Regions from separate parts of the Homo sapiens genome. Here all the other regions are linked to region 1. Evidence: fine-mapped expression QTL. A gene starts in region 1. Each other region holds a variant in brackets. All regions are shown on one strand. Distances are from middle to middle. Region 1 holds the start of CDC42EP4 (CDC42 effector protein 4). Region 2 has its middle 7.9 kb from the start of CPSF4L. Region 3 has its middle 15 kb from the start of CPSF4L. Region 4 overlaps CDC42EP4 (CDC42 effector protein 4).

The links. PIP is the estimated chance that this variant, and not a neighbour inherited with it, causes the effect.
Region 2: its variant is the best candidate, but not a certain one, in a credible set for the expression of CDC42EP4 in whole blood (INTERVAL, PIP 0.89).
Region 3: its variant is the best candidate, but not a certain one, in a credible set for the expression of CDC42EP4 in monocytes after R848 (Quach 2016, PIP 0.86).
Region 4: its variant is the best candidate, but not a certain one, in a credible set for the expression of CDC42EP4 in whole blood (INTERVAL, PIP 0.82).

The regions. Positions count from the first base shown.
Region 1 is chr17:73,308,933-73,314,076 of GRCh38, reverse strand. CDC42EP4 (CDC42 effector protein 4) reads left to right here and starts at 2,076. Exons shown (of 2, transcript NM_012121.5): 1 at 2,076-2,184. RefSeq lists silencers at 1,698-1,857, 1,928-2,187, 2,638-3,187, 3,198-3,327.
Region 2 is chr17:73,267,226-73,272,369 of GRCh38, reverse strand. No RefSeq gene overlaps it. Among named protein-coding and RNA genes, the nearest start is that of CPSF4L, 7.9 kb to the right of the region's middle. RefSeq lists an enhancer at 872-1,221. The variant T/C (reference allele first, on the strand shown) is at 3,181.
Region 3 is chr17:73,273,886-73,279,029 of GRCh38, reverse strand. No RefSeq gene overlaps it. Among named protein-coding and RNA genes, the nearest start is that of CPSF4L, 15 kb to the right of the region's middle. The variant A/G (reference allele first, on the strand shown) is at 3,092.
Region 4 is chr17:73,281,631-73,286,774 of GRCh38, reverse strand. It overlaps CDC42EP4 (CDC42 effector protein 4), which reads left to right. Exons shown (of 2, transcript NM_012121.5): 2 at 163-3,151. The coding sequence starts at 275. The coding sequence ends at 1,345. Among named protein-coding and RNA genes, the nearest start is that of CPSF4L, 22 kb to the right of the region's middle. RefSeq lists enhancers at 1-360, 361-916, 1,472-2,028, 4,881-5,010. The variant A/G (reference allele first, on the strand shown) is at 2,192.

The DNA.
Region 1 (5,144 bases):
CCTGGGCAACATGACAGAACCCTGTCTCTACAAAAGAAAAAGTACAAAATATGTAGCTGGGCATGGTGGCGCACACCTGTAGTCTCAGCTACTCAGGAGGGTGAGGTGGGAGGATCGCTTGAGCCCAGGAGGCCAAGGCTATAGTGAGCTACGATTGCAGCACTGCACTCCAGCCTGGGCAACAGAGCAAGACCCTGTCTCCAAAAAAAAAAAAGGGGCGGGGCTGGGGGGGACGTTAAGCTTGGAAACCACAGAAGCTGCTTTCCTTTTGTTCCCAGATAGCTGCAGTTTCACAACCCTGTTGACACAGGGTTTCCTTTGCTCCCCTTAGACGTACTGAGTAGGAGACAATGCATCATTGACTTTTTCTTCTATTCCCTTTCACATGTAAAATGTAGACTTACAGACACTAAATCAGAGCCTCACACGCTTGTGACCTCAATGCCTTTCCTCCCTCTCTCCCTCTTCTTTTCCTTTCCTGCTTGCTTTTTCTCTTTTAAATACAGAAGTTCCCAAAACCTTTTTGGAAAAAAGGTGATTTTTCCCCGGTGGATCCTCAACCTTGGCTAACTAAACCTCTATTTGATTGAGATCTGCCTTAGTCACTTTTTGGTTTACATCCATGATAACCCCGCCAGGGTTTGAATCCACAGTGTCTGCCTCCCAAGTGGCTCCAAACCCTACCTTTCCCTCCAGATGTCCAGTTCAGAATTTGATTTTACTTATTATTCATTTATTTTTTTTTTTGAGATGGAGTCTACCTCTGTCACCCAGGCTAGAGTGCAATAGCGCGATCTCGGCTCACTGCAACCTCCACCTCCCAGGTTCAAGCGATTGTCCCGCCTCAGCCTCCTGGGTAGCTGGGATTACAGGCGCCCACCACCATGCCCGACTAATTTTTGTATTTTTGGTAGAGATGGGGTTTCGCCATGTTGGCCAGGCTGGTCTCAAACTTCTGACCTCAAGTGACCCCCCACCTGCCTTGGCCTCCCAAAATGCTAGGATTACAGGCATGAGCCACTGCGCCCAGCCCAGAACTTAATTTTCACAGCAGGATGGAGTGGCCAAACCATTAGCTCTCAAGAGCTGGTTGCTGTCGCACTGCAGAGGGAAACGGAAATGTGCTGTCCCCAGAAAGCAGAATGTTCCTGAGGGCTTAGGGACCTCGCAGCCATGGGGAAAGTCTGGGGCCTTCACCCTCACTTCCTTTAAAAACCGAGGGTGGGGTTCAGCTAGAGGCAAGGGAACTTTTCACTTTGCGCCTTGTCCACTTTAGTTGACTACTTCGCAGCTGGCATTCTACCTTGATAATGATCATTTCAACTGAAACTATTCCTCTAAAAAGAATAGAGTCCAAGGCCTGGGACTTGGATTCAGGCTCTGGGACTCAGGAGTTGATCCTCCTTGACGTTCACCTGGTGCAAATTTAGCCTCAGCTGATACTTAGGAGGCAAAGGCACAGACGGGGATGCGGGGAGCTCAAGGGCTGTCACCCTGTAGAAACATTTCTGACGCCCAGTCCAAGCCTGGCCTCGGGGCTGGCCGGCTCCTCCCCGCTCCCTCGTTTACAGCGAGAGTCTGGGATGGCACCCACGAAGCTGGTGGCGCCAGCCCTCCTGCCCCATCTCCCGACAGTACTGCAGCCAGGTGGTTAGCAGGTCCGGGAGGGAGCAGGAACGAGGAACGCCACCCGGGCTGGAGTTCTTGGTTTCTTGCCCCGGCTCGAATGGGGAAGAGCCTCAAAAGAGCCTCGCGCCAGGCCCCCGGAGGGAGACGCGCCCCTGGCCCTGGGGGCCCCAGTGGGGGTTCGCGGCCGGAGCGCAGGCTGGGGCGGGAGTGTCTCCCGGAAGCCGGGCGGGCCCAGGCTGCCCCATACGGAGTTGGGAAAGTCTCAGGCTTTCAGTTTGAACCGAGGAGGCCGAGCAGTCGGGCAGAGGTTCCCGACGGCCATTGGCTGCTGCGGCGCCGTGACATCAGCGCAGAGGGGTGCGCGGGGAGGGTTGCGCGGGGCGGGCGCGGGCGGAGCCTGGAAGGGGAGTGTCCTGGAGGCTCCCAGCCCTGAAAGCCCGAGAGCCAGAGGGAAACAAACGCCGGCGCTGACAGGGGCCGCCAGCCCCTCCGCCGCGCGGAGCCCACGAAGGGGACAGCGCAGCCGGCCCAGAGCTCGGGTCTCCGGGGACCGAGGTAGGCGACGGGCAACCGCCTCTGTCTGTGGTAGCCGCCTTCGCGCTGGGTGCCCTGGGTGGGCTTGGGGGTCTCGAGTCCCCCTGTGGGGCAGAGAGGATCGAAGCTGGGGATGCGAGGCCGCGGCGCGGGGAGAAGGGCGCGGAGCCCCCACTTCTCGGCGCTCGCGCTTTTCACCGCGCCCACCGCGGTGCCTGGGACCCTAAGCTGCGCACCTAGTGTCCTGGCAGAGCGGGATGTGTGGAGGAGGAGGTGGCAGGGAGCCGGGCGCAGCGTTGCCGGGACTCCATTTCCTCTCTCCACGCTGGAACTCCCGGCCCTGGCCAAGGGTGCCGCTGAGGGGGTTGGGGGCCGGTTTTAAAGGGCCTCCCCCTTCCCAGGAATGGGGTGTGTGTCGGTGTGGGCAGGAGCGCAGCAATCGGCGGCGCGCGGCCCGCGATCTCCGCGAGGGGGGCGTGTGTGCGCCCGGAGTTCTCCATGAATAAGAACCGAATTCTCCGCCTGTACGGGCAGAGGCGTGTACACATCTCGCTCTCGTACACACACTGCAGCACACGCCACCCAATGTCACCCGGCCGGGAAGCCAGAGGGAAGGAGCTGTCTGGAAGGGAATGGCCGAAGGAACAAATGGTCCTCCTTTCCCCTACTCCCGCCCCGCGAACCCTTCCCTCCCCCGCCAGGCTCCCGCCCCGCCCGCTCCCTCGGAAGCCCGGGAGGCCGAGGCGCCTCCTGGCGGGGTGCGGGGGGAGGGCAGTCGAGCCACCCGCCCCCTTGGAGCCGGGGAGACGGCCGCTCCTGGGCTAGTGCGCCCCGAGCTCAGCGCGCTCAGCGGGATCGCAGGCGGGAGCGGTCGGTTAATGATTTAATCGCCCGCTTGGGGCGGGTGCGCGCGGATCGGCCGTCCCTGGCCCCGCCCCCTCTCCGGAGCGCCCCCAGCCGGGGTTACAAAACTGCCCCCTGCCCCCGGCGCGTCCCCCAGGAGCCATCCTGCCCGCGGGGATCCCGTCAGCCGGTGAGTGCCCCGGCCGGGAGGGCTGGAGAGCTGGGCGGGAGCCGGGGCTGAGGCTGAGCCAGCTTCCTGGGAGAGGACTGAAGTGCGTGTGTGTGTGTGTGTGTGTGTGTGTGTGTGTGTGTGTGTGTGTGTGTGTGACTGGGGGAGGGGTGCTCGCTGCTAACTCAAACCAGGTTCCCTGTGTTTTCCCAGTGACTGCGGCCTCGGCTTTGGAAGTTTTCTTTTTCTCCCTGGGAGAATGGAGGGGAAATACAATGCCTTTTCTTTTCTCGTTGCCTCTGGAACTTCTCTCTCTCCACGACTCCCACCCCTTGCAATCTGACCGGCTCCCACATCCCTTACTGTGTGCCCGGTGCCCACTGTTTGCCCAGATAGCTGAGCAGCTGGATCCGGGTGGAGTCCTTGGGAGCCCCCGTCGCTGCGAAGCCCCCTGCCCTCCCCTGAGGGTCCAGGGTGCTGGAGGGAAAATCTCTCTCTCGTCCGAACCCCAGCAGCCATCTGTACCAGAGAAATGTCCCATCCAGCGAGTGTAAATAATGAGGGGCCGGTGACAGGGGCCTCCTGCAAGGCGACTTCTTTGGCAGTCTGGGTTTCCAATAACTCCCTCAGCCCCCGCCCGCTTCTGAGGCTAGGGTGGAGGAGGGACCACCAGCAGGGTGGACTGAATTTTAAGAGAACAAAGAACAGGCCACAAAGGAAGGGATTGCTGAGCTGCGGATTTCTGATTTCTCCCAGAAATCGGGAGTTGGCTGGGACTGAGCCAGGCCCTAAGAGAGCCCCTGGCAGCCCCAGGGGCTCCTGGGGCAATAACAGGGCATCCACCAGGATCTCCTGAGGCTCTATCTCTGCTGAGAAGCCAGTGCCTACTGAATGCGGGGGTGCCCTGCCGGTTCCTGCTCTCATCAACTGCCCTGTGTGAGCTGCACATGTGACTGACTGATTAGTGGGGTGGCTTATCTCCTCTGAACTTGGACTTTGCCTCTCCACTCCTTGAAGACAGCTGCTCCTTCCCACAAGGGGTGTTCAGTGAATTTGGGGAGATCCCAAGTGGATTCCCAGGCATCCTGGTGGACCCCTGCAGGGACTAGGAGGGGCCCGCTGTGATCATATGGGCGGTGGTTCTGGGGTGAGTCTCAGCGCCTCCCCTCTGAAATCTCCCTGAAGTCCTAGGGTCCCTGCACACAGAGGGCAGCTTGCTCCTGCTCTGCTGTACAGCCTAGGCCTGTGCTGTGAATGATTCTCCATTTTCTGGGGTTTCTGCCTCTCTCTTTTTGGATTCCTCTTCTCTTTTCCCCTCGTTTCTCTCTTTCCCTTGCCCACCCACCGTGCTTGTCCCCATCCTCTGTACCCTGCCTCCACTGTGCTGCTGCCTCTGGAACCCGACAGCACCTCACAGAACCAGAGACCAAGGAGTCAGAAGCAAAGGGAGGTCTCATGTATAAAGGTCAGGGGAGTGAGTGTTGACCTGGGAGAGGAATCTTACACCAGTCTTTTGATTTTAAAAATAATTTTTATTTTATTTATTAATTTTTTGAGACCAGGTCTTGCTCTGTCACCCAGGTTGTGGTGCAGCGTCATAGTCAAGGCTCACTGCAGGCTGGACCTCCTGGGCTCAAGCTATCCTCCCACTTCAGCCTCCTGAGTAGCTGGGACTACTGGCGCCCACCACCACGCCCAGCCATTTTTTGTATTTTTTGTAGAGGTGGGGTTTCACCATGTTGCCCAGGCTGGTCTTGAACTCCTGAGCTCAAGGGATCTTCCCCCACCTCGGCCTCTCAAAGTGCTGGGCATACAGGTATGAGCCACTGCACCTGGCCAACCCTTTTTTTTTTTTTTTTTTTTGGAGACAGAGCTTTGCTCTGTTGCCCAGGCTGGAGTGCAGTGGCACAATCTTGGCTCACTGCATCCTCCACCTCCCGGGTTCAAGCAATTCTCCTGCCTCAGCCTC
Region 2 (5,144 bases), 42 kb after region 1:
TGTATTTTTAGCAGAGACGGGGTTTCACCATGTTGGTCAGGCTGTTCTCGAACTCCTGACCTCAGGTGATCCACTTGCCTTGGCCTCCAAAAGTGCTGGGATTACAGGCGTGAGCCACCGCGCCCGGCCACTTCTTTCTTTCTTTTTTTGAGACGGAGTCTCCCTCTGTGGCTCAGGCTGGAGTACAATGGCACGATCTTGGCTCATTGCAACCCCCACCTCCCAGGTTCAAGTGATTCTCCTGCCTCAGCCTCCCAAGTAGCTGGGATTACAGGCGCCCACTACCACACCTGGCTAATTTTTGTATTTTTAGTAGAGATGGGGTTTCACCATGTAGGCCAGGCTGGTCACAAACTCCTGACTTCAAGGTGATCCACCAGCCTCAGCCTCCCAAAGTGCTGGGATTACAGGTGTGAGCCACCGCGCCCGGCCTGGAGCTGCTTTTCAGCCAATTCTAGATTCTGGCAGTTGGCTGCCGGATGTCCTTCTTTCATGCCTTCTCTAGAGAGTGGCCCCAGGACTTTGCAGCCAGAGGGCTCTTTCTAAAATGCAAATCTCGACCAGTGCAGTGGCTCACGGCGCTGGAGTAATTCCAGACCTTTGTAATCCCAGCCCTTTGGGAGGCCGAGGCAAGAGGATCACTTGAGGCCAGGAGTTTGAGACCAGCCTGGCCAACACGGTGAAACCTTGTCTCTGCTACAAATACAAAAATTAGCCGGGCGTACTGGAGCACACCCATAATTCCAGCTACTCAGGAGGCTAGGCAGGAGAATCGCTTGAACCCAGGAGGTGGAGGTTGCAATGAGCAAGACTGCACCACCACACTCCAGCCTGGGTGAGAGAGTGAGACTCCATCTCAAAAATAAAAAATAAAGTAAAAATGCAAATTTCAACAACATCGTAAAGTGGGCTTTCAGTGACTCCTCAAGGTCCCAGGTTTGAGGCCCTTCGCAAGCCTGGACCTCCCAGTCCCCCGAGCCACCCCCAGCAGCCAGTGTGCCAGATCTGATCCTATAGAACCAGAAGTGGTTTCCTAAACGCATGGCGGCGGCTGGAACCATTGTCCCCCTTCTGCCTTGACAAGACTCTACATGTCTATGCCTTTGTTTCACTTCCTCCCAGAAGCTTTCCTGCAACACCTAAGTGAGAGCTCAGCAGCCTTGTAGTAGCTCCGCCAGTGCCTTCTGATGTCACTGCCTGCTTATTGGTTACGTTCCTCTCTATACTAGTTTCCTTATTGTTGCTGTAACAAATTACCACAAATTGGCCGGGTACAGTGGCTCATGCCTGGAATCCCAGCACTTTGGGAGGCTGAGGTGGGCAGATCACTTGAGATCAGGAGTTCAAGACCAGCCTATCCAACATGGAAATGATCCCGTCTCTACTATAAAACAATACAAAAATTAGCCAGGTGTGGTGGTGCATGCCTGTCATCCCAGCTACTCAGGTGGCTGAGGCGCAAGAATCACTTGAACCCAGGAGGTGGAGGTTGCAGTGAGCTGAGATGGCACCACTGCACTCCTGCCCTGGTGACAGAGTGAAACTCTGTCTCAAAACAAAACAAACAAATAGAAAACACAAATTGCCACAAATCTGGTAGCTTAAAACTGTACTTTTTTGGCCAGGCATGGTGGCTCACGCCTGTAATCCCAGCACTTTGGGAGGCAGATCACGAGGTCAGGAGATCAGAGATCGAGACCACGGTGAAATCCCATCTCTACTAAAAAATACAAAAAATTAGCCAGGCGCGGTGGCGGGCGCCTGTAGTTCCAGCTACTCGGGAGGCTGAGGCAGGAGAATGGCGTGAACCCGGGAGGCAGCCCTTGCAGTGAGCCAAGATTGCGCCACTGCACTCCAGCCTGGGCGACAGAGTGAGACTCCGTCTCAAAAAAACAAACAAACAAACAAACAAACAAACAGCACTTTTTTTTTTTTTTTGAGACAGGGTCTGGCTCTGTCGCCAGGCTGGAGTGCAGTGGTTCAATCTCAGCTCGCTGCGACCTCCTTCTCCTGGGTCCAAGCCAACCTCTCACCTCAGCCTCTTGAGTAGTTGGGACTACAGGTGCAGGCCACCACGTCCAGCTAATTTTTGTAGAGATGGGGTCTCATTATGTTGCCCAGGCTGGTCTCAAACTCCTGAGCTCAAGCAATCCACCCTCCTCCACCTCCCAAAGTCCTAGGATTATAGGCATGAGCCACCATGCCTGGCCCACAAATGTAATATCTCACATTTTTAAAGGTCAGAAGGCCCAGATGGCTTTCACTGAGCTAAAATCAAGATGTGGGTAGGTCTGTGTTCCTCCTGCAGGTTTGAGGGCAGAATCTGTCTTTTCTACTTCTAGAGGCCACCCGCATTCCTTGGCTCATGGCCCCTTCCTCCAGCTTCAAAGCCAGCAGTACAGCATCTTCACATCTCTCTCTGTTTTTTCCTCTCTTCCTCTGTGTCTCTCCCTTCCTCTGACCCTGCCTCCTCATAAGGATCTTTGTGGTGCTATTGGGCCCACTCAGATAATCCAGAATAATCTTCCCATCTCAAGATTCTTAACTTAATTGCATCAGCAAGGTCCCTTTTGCCTTGTAAGGTAACACACCCACAGTTTCTGGAAATTAGGATGTGGGCATCTTTGGATGGGAGCACATTATTCTACCGAGTGCAATCTCCTAGGCAAGTGGCTGTGTCTTGTTTGTTCTGTGTCTTCCAGAGACGGCAGCAGTTAAAAAATACTTTTGAGCGAGTGAGTGAGTGAATGAGTGAGTGAGTGAGTGAGTGAGTGAATGAGTGAGTGACTGAGTGAATGAGTGGGTGAATGAGTGAACAAGTGGGTGAATGGATGAATAAGTGAGTGAATGAGTGAGGGAATGAGTGAGTGAGTGGATGAGTGAGTGAATGAGAGAATGAGTGGGTGAATGAGAGAATGAGTGAGTGAATGAGTGAGTGAGTAAGTGGGTGAGTGAATAAATGAGTGAATGAGTGAGAGAATGAGTGAGTGGGTGAGTGAATGAGTGAGTGAATGAGTGAGTGAGTGAATGAGTAAGTGGGTGAGTGAGTGAATGAGTGAGTGAGTGAATGAGTGAATGGGTGAATGAATGAGTGAATGAGTAAGTGGGTGAGTGAATGAATGAGTGAATGAGTGAGTGAGTGAATGAGTGAGTGAATGGGTGAATGAGTGAGTGAATGAG[T/C]GAACGAGTGAGTGAATGAGTGAGTGAATGGGTGAATGAGTGAGTGAATGAGTGAACAAGTGAGTGAATGAGCAAATGGGTGAATGAGTGAGTGAATGAGTGAATAAATGAGTGAGTGAGTGAAAGAGTGAGTGAATAAGTGAATAGGTGAGTGAGTGAATAAATGAGTGAGAGTGAATAAGTGAGTGAATGAGTGAGTGGATGAATGAGTAAGTGAATGAGTGAGTGAGTGAGTGAATAGCTCCCCAGAGGAGGGAGGGTAAGAGCCAGACGTGGGAAGCCAGAGGACTGTGGTTAAGGAGGAGGAGACCAGAGTGTGACCCAAGCTGCCCCACCTGCCACCTCTGCCACTTCGGCTTTGCGGACAGGCCGGGCCTGCAGCTGTGGGTGACAGGCTCCTTTCTCACAGGTCATGGGGGGCAGGGGCTGAAGCCTGTGGAGTTTCCCTCTGAGCCCAGGGAGGCTTTGGGCAGCCTCTGCTCAGCCTGGAGAGGCTCTGGGCACAGAACCCCAGGCAGGGCGGAGGATGACCTGAAGACCAAGTGAAGAAACGTCGCGGCAACAGTGGACAGGGAATGCTATCTGCACACCCCTTTGAGCAGGGCTGACTCCCTAAGCCCAAAATGTCCTATTTCCTTGATATTTGGACCAAAAGTAGAATCTGCATCCTACCTACTCAGGAACAAGCAAAGGCTCAGTAGCTGTCTTGGGCCTCAGGGGTCTGGGTGGTCTTCCCAGCCCAGGGGAGGTGGAGCCGTCTCCCACGCTTAGCTTGGTAGGCTGGAAGGAGCTGGCTTTGGGGCCAAGCAGACCTGAGCTTGTGGTCTTTAGGAAGCACATCTAAGCCTTTAGCCTCAGCTTTTTTCAGTTGTAGAAGAGAAAGAATAATAGCTCTCTTTGCAAGGTTTTGTGGGAATTAGAGAGAATACAACGTAAACAGTGAACCTAAACCAATTAAGTCCTAGTAACTGGTAGCAAAGGTTGGATTCTAGGCCCCCATTCCCACATCTACTGGCTATATAAGCTTAGGCAGTGGTTTCACTTCTGGGCCTTGATTTCCTTACCTATAAAACGGGTAGAGCAGCTTGGAAGTTTACCTTGAGAATGGGAGGAGCCTTGAATGAGAAGTGTGGGTGGTTTATTAGTCCTGTGGCTATTTCCAAGCCCCAAGGGGAAGTAGATGTCTTTCCCTGGGTGCAGGTGTCAGAACTGACGGACTCCTAGAGACTGAGTTCCTGCACAATGACAGAGCAGGACCATCCTGGCTGCAGGGCCTCCCTGCCCTGCACTTCAAGTGGCCACTGTGAAGCCAACAGCTGTCCCCTCCAAGTGGCATTCTTGGGGCACAAAGGGCGGTGGAGAGAGCAGGGAACACTGGCTCATTGTCCCTGGGACTGAGCAGCAGCAGCGGCGGGTGAGGGGCACCCCTCCTGACCTCCAGCCCCTCCCAACCCCGTGGCTATTCGGCTGCCAGGCCATCACTGCCGGATCTTACAGTAGCCCCCAGCAGCACCTGAAGCATCATGGGACCCCTTCCCCCATGGCATCTTTTACCAGGGGCCCTTAGGAATAATGCATTTTAAGAAGGGATAGGTCCAAGCGCAGTGGCTCATGCCTTTAATCCCAGCACTTTGGGAGGCCGAGGTGGGCGGATCACTTGAGGTCAGGAGTTCGAGACCGGCCTGGCCAACATGGTGAAACCCTGTCTCTACTAAAAATAAAAAAAGTAGCCAGGCATGGTGGCAGGCGCCTGTAATCCCAGCTACTTAGGAGGCTGAAGCAGGAGAATCGCTTGAACCTGGGAGGCGGAGGTTGCAGTGAGCTGAGATTTCGCCACTGTACTCCAGCCTGGGGGACAGAGCAAGACTCTGTCTCAAAAATAAAACAACAACAACAAAAACCACTCCTGTGACAGGCAACCACGTGTACTTTCACTGATCCTCAGTCCTCCAGGGACATGGTGT
Region 3 (5,144 bases), 35 kb after region 1:
CCCACCCCTGCCTGGCTCCCCTCGACCCTCATATGACAGACTCCCCAAGGCCCCCACTCCCTCCACACTTGGGCAGGTGCCCTTCCTGGCCACCCTTCACCCGCAGCACTTAACACGTACACGATCTTTCCCTGAGCCCTGAGGGCCCTGATTTAAGATGCCAGAAATAAAAGTTAGGAATGAAAATGGGAGACCTTATCTTTATTCTTCCCCTTTCCGATCTCCTCTAGGCCCCGTGGCTTCCTGCCAACAGACAGATGGGAGACTGGGAAGAATATTTTGGTGGGAGGGAGTGGTGCTTGCAGGCAGATGGATACTGGCTCTACCTCTAAAACCTGTTGCTCTAACCTACTGAGCTGCTGTTCTCCACAGAGACTCCCAGGAGAGATAGGAGGAGCCAAGGATAGCTGCCTTCCCTGGCCAGAATCCAACCCTAAATGACACTTGGCATGTTAAAACACACTTGTCAAGGCCACAGGGTTCTGATGAATCTTGTTTTCTTCTTCTGCCCTGCTTTCTTCCAAAAAGGATTAGAGGCAGCTTACAAAAATTCATAAAATACAATAGGATAAAAATAGATCAGAGAGAAAACAACACTGGAACACATGGTACAATGAACCAAGAGGGTAGGACACAGAAATGTTCTTTGGCTGGGGCTCCACAATCCTCAAAGGTGGACTGCAAACAGGATTCTGAGCTTCGTATCAGTCAAAACAAAGAGGGAAATCTGCCGGTTTTGAGACTCACAAAGTCCACAAGATTAAAACCAACCCTGGCCGGGTGCAGTGGCTCATGCCTGTAATCCTAGCACTTTGGGAGACCAAGGCGGGTGGATCACATGAGGCCAGGAGTTCGAGACCAGCCTGGTCAACATGGTGAAACTCCGCTTAAAATTAGCTGGGCGTGGTGGCAGACACCTGTAATCCCAGCTACTAGGGAGACTGAGGCAGGGGACTCACCTAAGCCTGGGAGGTGGAGGTTGCAGTGAGCCGAGATTGTGCCACTGCACTCCAACCTGGGCAACAGAGCAGGATTCTGACTCAATTAAAAAGCAAAATAAAACACTCAACCTAGAAGCAGCGCAGCTATTTCTGACACTAAAGTCTGAGAGGAATTCTCGTGGGACCTTTGAAGGGATGACGGGTAGTGTCCCAAGCAACACCGTCAACGACAGTCCTTTTTTGTTTTAGAGACAGGGTCACTCAGTCTTGCTCCGTCTCCCAGGCTGGAGTGCAGTGGCGTGATCTCGGCTCACTGCAACCTCCACCTCCCGGATTCAAGTGATTCTCCTGCCTCAGCCTCGCGAGTAGCTGGGACTACAGGCTCACGCCACCACACCTGGCTATGTTTTGTATTTTTTGGTAGAGACAGGGTTTCACTGTGTTGGCTGGGTGGGTCTCAAACTCCTGACCTCAAGTGATCTGCCTGCCTCGGCCTTCCAAAGTGCTGGGATTACAGGTGTGAGCCACCGTGCCTGGCAAATTTTTGTTGTTTATAAGCCACCCAGATTGTGGAATATTGTTTATAGCACTCCAAATGGACTAAGTAAGACACAGATACAGTCACACAAACCCTATCAGCTGCTTTCTACAGAGTTACTCAGGATAAATTGAGGGTTTGATACCAAGGCACAGATCAGTAAAACCCACTCTATGGAGGGCCAGACCCACATGATCCAAGAGGCACAATTTAGATCCTCCCAGAGGAGGGTTTCTCAACCCAACACTATTGATATTTGGGGCTGGCTCATTCATTGTTACTGGGGACTGACCTGCGCACTGTAGTGTGTTTGCAGCATCCCTGGCCTCCGCCTGGTAGATGCCAAGCACTCCCTCAAATTGTGACAGTGGAAAATGTCCTCAGACCGGGCTCGGTGGCTCATGCCTGTAATCCCAGCACTTTGGGAGGCCGAGGCAGTTGGATCACTTGAGCCCAGGAGTTCAAGACCAGGAGTTCAAGACCTGGCCAACATGGTGAAACCAGATCTCTACAAAACATATAAAAAATTAGCCAGGTGTGGTTGTGTCCACCTAGTGCTCCCAGCTACTGGGGAGGCTGAGGTGGGAGGATGGCTTGAGCCCAGGAGGTTGAGGCCGCAGTGAGCCGTGATCACACCATGCACTCCAGCCTGGGCAACAGGGTGAGACCCTGTCTCAAAAAAAAAAGTCCCCTGACATTGCCAAATGCCCTATTAGGGGCTGAAAACCACTGCTCATAAAGGAGGAGTGAGCCACTTTCTTAAAAGGTTGGTGCAAAAGTAATTGAGGGTTGGGTACGGTGGCTTACGCCTGTAATCCCAGCACTTTGGGAGGCCAAGGAGGGCGGATCATTTGAGGTCAAGAGTTCGAGACCAGCCTGGCCAACATGGCAAAACCCTGTCTCTGCTAAAAATACAAAAATTAGCTGGGCGTGGTGGCGCAAGCCTATAACCACAGCTACTTGGGAGGCTGATGCAGGAGAGTTGCTTGAACCCGGGAGGCGGAAGTTGCAATGAGCCAAGATCATGCCACTGCACTCCAGGATCTGTCTCAAAAAAAAAGAAAAAAAAAAGATGTAATTGCATTTTTTGTCGTTAAAAGTAATGGCAAAATATAAAGACCAATTTAAGACAAATAAAAGTGTTTTCAGGGCCGGGCATGGTGGCTCATGCTTGCAATCCCAGCACTTTGGGAGGCTGAGGCAGGCGGATCACAGGGAGTTTGAGACCAGCCTGACCAACATGGCGAAACCCCGTCTCTACTGAAAATACAAAAATTCGCCGGAAGTGGTGGTGTGCGCCTGTAATCCCAGCTACTCATGAGGCTGAGGCAGGAGAATCGCTTGAACCCGGGAGGCAGAGGTTGCAGTGAGCCGAGGTCGTGCTACTGCACTCCAGCCTGGGCAGCAGAGTGAGACTCTATCTCAAAAAAAAAAAAAAACAAAAATAGTTTTTAGGTCACATTCTTTTCTTCAAAGCAAAAAAAAAAAAAAAAAAAAAAAAAAATTTATGCAGTCCCTTGAGGAAAAATGTATATACTTACATTTTTTAATTGCCTGCTTGATTGAGAAAATTGATACTTCCTATTAGCCAGTAAAATGTTTCTACATGGGT[A/G]TACTTGAGAAGTGGCTGTACCAAGGCAGCTTTCTAATTTTTCATCCTGAAGTCAGATCGAGGATTGTATTGAGAAGGTGGCATGGGCCAGAGGGCTTCTCCTTGCAGATCTAGAGTAGTGAGAGGACTGTGTCATCTCCTGGCTGACTTGAAGACAATCCTGCATCAATATCATTTCTCACAACCGTGGTTCTTCCCCAACCCTCCACCAAATCTGGGCTGACTGCAGAGAGTTTGCTGTTGTATTCTCTGAAAAAAAGAAAACTATAGTGCAGATTCCTTTATTCATCAGATATGTACTGAGCCCCTGCCATGCTCCAAGTACTCTGGGATGTGTTGGGAGGTATAACAGTAGGCAAAGCCAACACAGTCCCAGGGTGGCACTGTAAGTTGTGTGGACCCCTTCCTCCATAAAAATTGTGAAAATTATATTTATGACTCTGCTGCTATAAACCTACAGGTTTGCATATTTTCTTCTGTTTGTTGTTTTTTTTTTTTTTTTTAGAGGGAGTCTCGCTCTGTTGCCCAGGCTGGAGTGCAGTGGTGCAATCTTGGCTCACTGCAACCTCTGTCTCCTGGGTTCAAGCAATTCTCCTGCCTCAGCCTCCCGAGTAGCTGGGATTACAGGTGCGCCCCACCATGCAGGGCTAATTTTTGTATTTTAGTAGAGACAGGGTTTCACCATGTTGGTCAGGCTGGTCTCGAACTCCCGACCTCGTCATCTGCCCGCCTTGGCCTCCCAGAGTGCTGGGATTGCAGGTGTGAGCCACCACGCCCGGCTATTTTCTTCTGATTTTCAAATAAATTAGAACACGTTTGTGGGCCCCTAAAAGGGCAGAGGGCCCTGGCACTGTGTCTACTGAACTGTTGCCGAAGTCACCCGGATGGGCCTTGGCCTTAAGGGTTTGGGTTGGAGGGCTTGGGAAACAGACACTCAACAAGCAAGAAGATAAGTAAAAGCAGCAAACATGGTACTGATTTGAAGGAAACACACATCTAGATGCTGGGAGGGAGACTAACGCTCAGAGGGAGAATAACCCGGGGCCTCACTTTGGATAAGGTCACTGGGGGCTGGGTGTGGTGGCTCACGCCTGTAATGCCAGCATCTTGGGAGGCCAAGGTAGGAGGATTGCTTGAGCCCAGGAGTTTGGGCAACATAATGAGACTCCATTTCTGCAAAAAATAAGCTAGCTGGGCGTGGTGGTGCATTCCTGCAGCCCCAGCTACTTAGGAGGCTGAGGTGGGAGGATCACTTGAGCCCAGAAGTTGAGGCTGCAGTGAGCCATGATTGTACCACTGTACTCCAGCCTGGGGTACAGAGTGAGACCCTGTCTCACAGGTCATGGGGGGTAGGTGCTCCCTGAAGAAGTGGCATTTAAATCAGACTCAGAGGATGAGGAGTCCGGGAGGTGAATGGCGGGGACAAGCATGTTTAGAGAACCAAAGATTCACCTAGCTTTTGGCCTGAGTGTCTGGGCAGTTTCACTTTTTCTGAGCAGGAAAGACTGAGGGAAGAATGGATTTGGGGGAGTTTGAGTTTGATCTCAGATACATGGAAGCTGATTCAAATGGAAATGGCAAGCTGTTGTGAAGCGAGTGTTATGGACCAAATGTTTGTGTCCTCTCAAAACTCACACACAGAACCCTTAATCCCAATGTGATGGTATTAGGACTTGGAGGTCTTTGGGAAGTGATTAGGTTTAGGTGAGGTCCTGAGGGTGGAGACGCCATGATGGAATCAGTGTCTTTGTAAGAAGAGAATGAGGCCAGCGTTCAGTCTCTCTCTCCTCGCCTTGTAAAGACACAGCAAGAAGGTGGCCATCTGCCAGCCAGTAAGAGAGCCCTCCCTGGGAACAAAATCTGCCAGCACCTTGATCTTGGACTTCCTAGAACTAAGAGAAATAAGGGTCTGTTGCTTTTTTTTTTTTTTTTTTTTTTTTTGGAGTTTCGCTCTGTTGCCCAGGCTGGAATGCAATGGCACCATCTCATCTCACTGCAACCTCCGCCTCCCGGGTTCGAGTGATTCTCCTGCCTCAGCCTCCCAAGTAGGTGG
Region 4 (5,144 bases), 27 kb after region 1:
ATGAAGAAACAGGCAGGGTTATACCATGGATTGCTGGCTTATTTCACAGCATTTAACTTTGGTAGGAGCGCTGGGGTTTAAATGACAGTCCCCTGGCAAAGAGGCTTTTGTGCCGTGTGGCCAGCCCGCGTTAATCCTTTGCCTCTCATTCTCTGCTTGCAGCCTTATGATCTCCTCATTGCGTCCCCCTCTGCCCACTGGACTTGGACTTCAGATCTGACCCCAGACCTGCCGGCTACCTCGGGAGGGCCCACCTCCCCGCCCATCCAGCAAGATGCCAATCCTCAAGCAACTGGTGTCCAGCTCGGTGCACTCCAAGCGCCGTTCCCGAGCGGACCTCACGGCCGAGATGATCAGCGCCCCGCTGGGCGACTTCCGCCACACCATGCACGTTGGCCGGGCCGGAGACGCCTTTGGGGACACCTCCTTCCTCAATAGCAAGGCTGGCGAGCCCGACGGCGAGTCCTTGGACGAACAGCCCTCTTCTTCATCTTCCAAACGCAGTCTCCTGTCCAGGAAGTTCCGGGGCAGCAAGCGGTCACAGTCGGTGACCAGGGGGGAGCGGGAGCAGCGTGACATGCTGGGCTCCCTGCGGGACTCGGCCCTGTTTGTCAAGAATGCCATGTCCCTGCCCCAGCTCAATGAGAAGGAGGCCGCGGAGAAGGGCACCAGTAAGCTGCCCAAGAGCCTGTCATCCAGCCCCGTGAAGAAGGCCAATGACGGGGAGGGCGGCGATGAGGAGGCGGGCACGGAGGAGGCAGTGCCCCGTCGGAATGGGGCCGCGGGTCCACATTCCCCTGACCCCCTCCTCGATGAGCAGGCCTTTGGGGATCTGACAGATCTGCCTGTCGTGCCCAAGGCCACGTACGGGCTGAAGCATGCGGAGTCCATCATGTCCTTCCACATCGACCTGGGGCCCTCCATGCTGGGTGACGTCCTCAGCATCATGGACAAGGAGGAGTGGGACCCCGAGGAGGGGGAGGGTGGTTACCATGGCGATGAGGGCGCCGCTGGCACCATCACCCAGGCTCCCCCGTACGCCGTGGCGGCCCCTCCCCTGGCAAGGCAGGAAGGCAAGGCTGGCCCAGACTTGCCCTCCCTCCCCTCCCATGCTCTGGAGGATGAGGGGTGGGCAGCAGCGGCCCCCAGCCCCGGCTCAGCCCGCAGCATGGGCAGCCACACCACACGGGACAGCAGCTCCCTCTCCAGCTGCACCTCAGGCATCCTGGAGGAGCGCAGCCCTGCCTTCCGGGGGCCGGACAGGGCCCGGGCTGCTGTCTCAAGACAGCCAGACAAGGAGTTCTCCTTCATGGATGAGGAGGAGGAGGATGAAATCCGTGTGTGAGGCGGACAGTGGGTGGCCACCGGGAGCTCTTGGCTGCATCTTCTCCCTGCCCCCACCCCACTATGACCTTTGACCCTACGGCGCAGGGGCAGCCAGGACCCTTGATTCAGACCATGGACCCTGGACCTTGTAGATGAGGGACACTGGCCTGGCCCTCGGGTCTTCGGAGGACGTAGGGGGCTGGCATGGGTGCCGACTGGCTGCCTGACTTCATCATGCTCCCTGCACTTAGGCTGCGTGGGACAAGGGCTGTGTTGTCACAGCAGGAATAGGTTTTCCTCTGTTGGCCTCCCTTTCCTCCACCCTGGCCTCAAATGGATGCCAGATGCCAACCCCAGTTCTGGCCACGTACAGCCAGCGGGTCAGCCCAGAGGCAGCCTCAGCTCCAGGGCTAAGGACTCTCGGCTCCCATTTTCTCTGCTGGCGTTTCTGCTGTGCCCAGCAGTGGCTGCTGGGGAAGCAGCTGCAGCAGGAGGGAGACGGTCTTGCCTCTCAGCCCCTCCCTGCCCCACCCCAGCTCCTGCCCTGGAAATCTGGAGCCCCTTGGAGCTGAGCTGGACGGGGGGCCAGCTGCGAGCATGTGCACTAAACGCAGCCCTTTCCAGGGGAAGAGAACAGGATGGAGAATGGAAGGAAAGCCCCCCAGGCTTCGTGAATTGCAAGAAGGGACCCTTCCAGGATGACACTAGGAACAGGGCTAGGGCACTCGCTCAGTCCCTAGGGGCTTGTTTGTTCTTTATTATTGTGTTTAAATCCTTATAGAGCAATATCAGGATGGTGTTAATAGGTCTGCCTCAGAATGAGAATCAATCCTTTTAGAAAACCTTTATACTAAGCCTCCTCTTC[A/G]AAATTCACAGTGGCGATTAGCGGACTGGAGTCTGGTGGCGATTAGCGGACTGGAGTCTGGGGACATCCGTGGCAAAGACACCAGCTCAACTTTAGTGCTTCCCAACTTTATTTAGAATGACATGGGGTGGGTGTCTGGTGTGTGTGTTTTCCCTACGCACCTCCCATAGCTATTAACAACTGAGGAAGGCCAGTGCAGAATATTTTTGGAGAACGATTTTTTTTTTAAATAATATATCATTCCTATGGGGGGAAAGCCTTTTTTTTCTTTTTGGCTGAGTTATTCCCTCCCTCCCCTCAATACCCTCAGTACTGACTACTTCCCTTTCTTTTCTCAGGCCTCCCCCCACCGACTTTTGAGGCCAGGGTTGGCCAGATTTAGCAAAACCAAAACAGAGTGCTGAGTTAAACGCAAATTTCAGGTAAACAAAAGATAATTTTCTAGCATTAATATGCCCCACGCAATATTTGGAACACTTATGTGAAAAATGATTTGTTTTTCTGAAATTCACGTTTCTCTCTGAGTCCTGTAACTGTCCCCGAGGGGATTGAGCAGAAGCTCGGGTATGAGCCCTGAGGTTGACTGCCGGTTATTTTTCTGTCCTGGGAACAGCCTGACCCACCTCCCTGTCTCCATGTAGCCAGTGAGGGGAGGGGGAGACACAGAACCAACCACAGCCAGGGGCGTCCCCATGGCGACTGTGGCCCGGCCCCTCCTCTCTTGCCTGACTCTCCTCTCTTGCCTGACTCTAGACACTAACTTAGTTCCAGGTTCGGTGCCCTGTTGGTGCTCCTGTTTCCAATAGCTTAGGTCCCATGGTGGGGGAGGAACCTCAGGGGCTATGCAGCCCCCGCCAGCTGCCCTCGAATCCCGTCCAGGCCAATTCCAGATTCTAAACTGATTTTTTTCATGATATTGTCAAAACAGTGAGGAAACATTAAAAAAAAAGCCCTAAAGCACGCCTGGTGTCTGTCTCTGCTTTTTGGGAGGGCTATTTCAGGATGGGGGTGGGGTCTGGACCCAGGTCCTAGAGCTGTCCAGGGGGGCCTGAGGTGGCTTCTGTCTCTCTGTCCGTGAGGACCCGCCCTTCCTGCGATGCTGTCTGCCTGGGCAGGCCCCTTCAGAGTCTGGGGACTCAGGTGTCCCTAACTGCCATCTCTTGGAAGCCCTTGGCACTTGGTCGCTTAGCTGTTCTGTGCCTCCCTCTCCTGCTCTGTAAAATGGGTATCCTGCCACTCTTAGAGGGTTGAGGCACAGAAACAGTGACATGGGCTTTTTGTGGGGGAGGGGGTTGGTTTTTTGTTTTTTTTTGTTTTTTTTTTTTGTTGTTGTTGTTTTGTTTTTTTTGAGATGGAGTCTCACTCTGTCGCCCAGGTTGGAGTGCAGGGGTGTGATCTCAGCTCACTGCAACCTCCGCTTCCTAGGTGCAAGCGATTCTCCTGCCTCAGCCTCCCAACTAGCTAGGATTACAGGCGTGCGCCACTACACCCAGCTAATTTTTGTATTTTTAGTAGATACTGGGTTTCACCATGTTGGCCAGGTTGGTCTCCAACTCCTGACCTCAAGTGATCCGCCCACCTTGGCTTCCCAAAATGCTGGGATTACAGGTGTGAGCCACCGTGCCGGTCGACATGGGCTTTTTATACAGTTGTGATTAGGATGAGAGTGACTGTGTTCTCCCCAGCCCCCTGGTGTCCTGGTGCACGGAACTGTCACCACCAGAAAGTGGCTGGCCCTGAAGGCAGTTTCTGCATGATGCTGGGAGCGGGGCTACCACCTCCTCTTTCCCCTTTTACCGTTAAGCCTGGAAAATCAGCTTACAAGTGGCAGGTCCTCAGTTCAACCTCACTTCTCAGGGAGATAGAAGCTCCACATCCCCATTTTCCAGATGGAGAAAGATGATCAGATAAGCCTCGAGGCCGCCTTCTCTAATGCCCAGAATTCATTCAAAACTCCTGCCCTTCTCACCCCACCACTCCTGGGCACATCAAAACCTCGGGATATAAAGTCAGGGGGTGAGGGTCTAGTGGCCCCTGAACCCACTGCCCTGCCCCTGCCCTACCACCTCCTTCCCTTGAATCATGTTCCCCTCTTTCTGGACAGCTTCAGAAGGGAGCCCTGGTCTGCGTAGGGCTGGCTCACTGCTTGTTGAAGCCCCCGCTTGCTCTCAGGAAATCTGGGGAAATCTTGGGGATCTCAATGTGGCTGAGTTCCTGGTGGAAACCCTGCACTCTCCCCTGAGCACCCACAGAGAAATGTGAGTTCCCCACTCATCTCCCTGGAAAGCAATTAGAGGCATAATTAAAATGTCACTCAGGTCCCTCCCTCTGTCCCTAGACAGGCTCATTCGTGTGGGAGTTATGAGCGGGGACTTCTGGCTGCCCCAAGGGAAGAAGAGAGAGGGAGGAGAGCTGGGGCCCATTGGGAGACGGGTCCCTAGGGGCTACAGTCTAGCTCAGGGATGACTGGGGAGAGGAAGGTACTGTTCAGGCGAGGACCAGGCAGATGAGAAGGGGCTGTGCCTCCCAGACACAGTGCAACCTCCCAAGAGAGAGAAATGACTGTACCTACACCGACTAACCAGGGACTCCCTAGGGGCCCAGAGAAACCAGCCGCCCCGAGCCCCAGAATCTGTTTCTTGACCATTGATGGAAAAGCTCTGAGCATTCAAGAAGACCCGGGGACCTGGCTTGATTCACAGCTTTAAGGAGCATACCTTCTGGCTGGGGGTTCAGTGGACCCAGGAGACAAGGATGAGATGAACACGCAGAACCAGCCAGGCCACAGAGCTCTGTTAAGATTTGCTGGGAGCCAGGCGCCGTGGCTCACACCTGTAATCCTAGCACTTTGGGAGGCTGAGGCAGGAGGATCCCTTGAGACCAAGAGTTTGAGATCAACTTGGGTAACAGCGAGACAACATGTCTACCAAAAAATAATTTTTTTTTTTTGAGA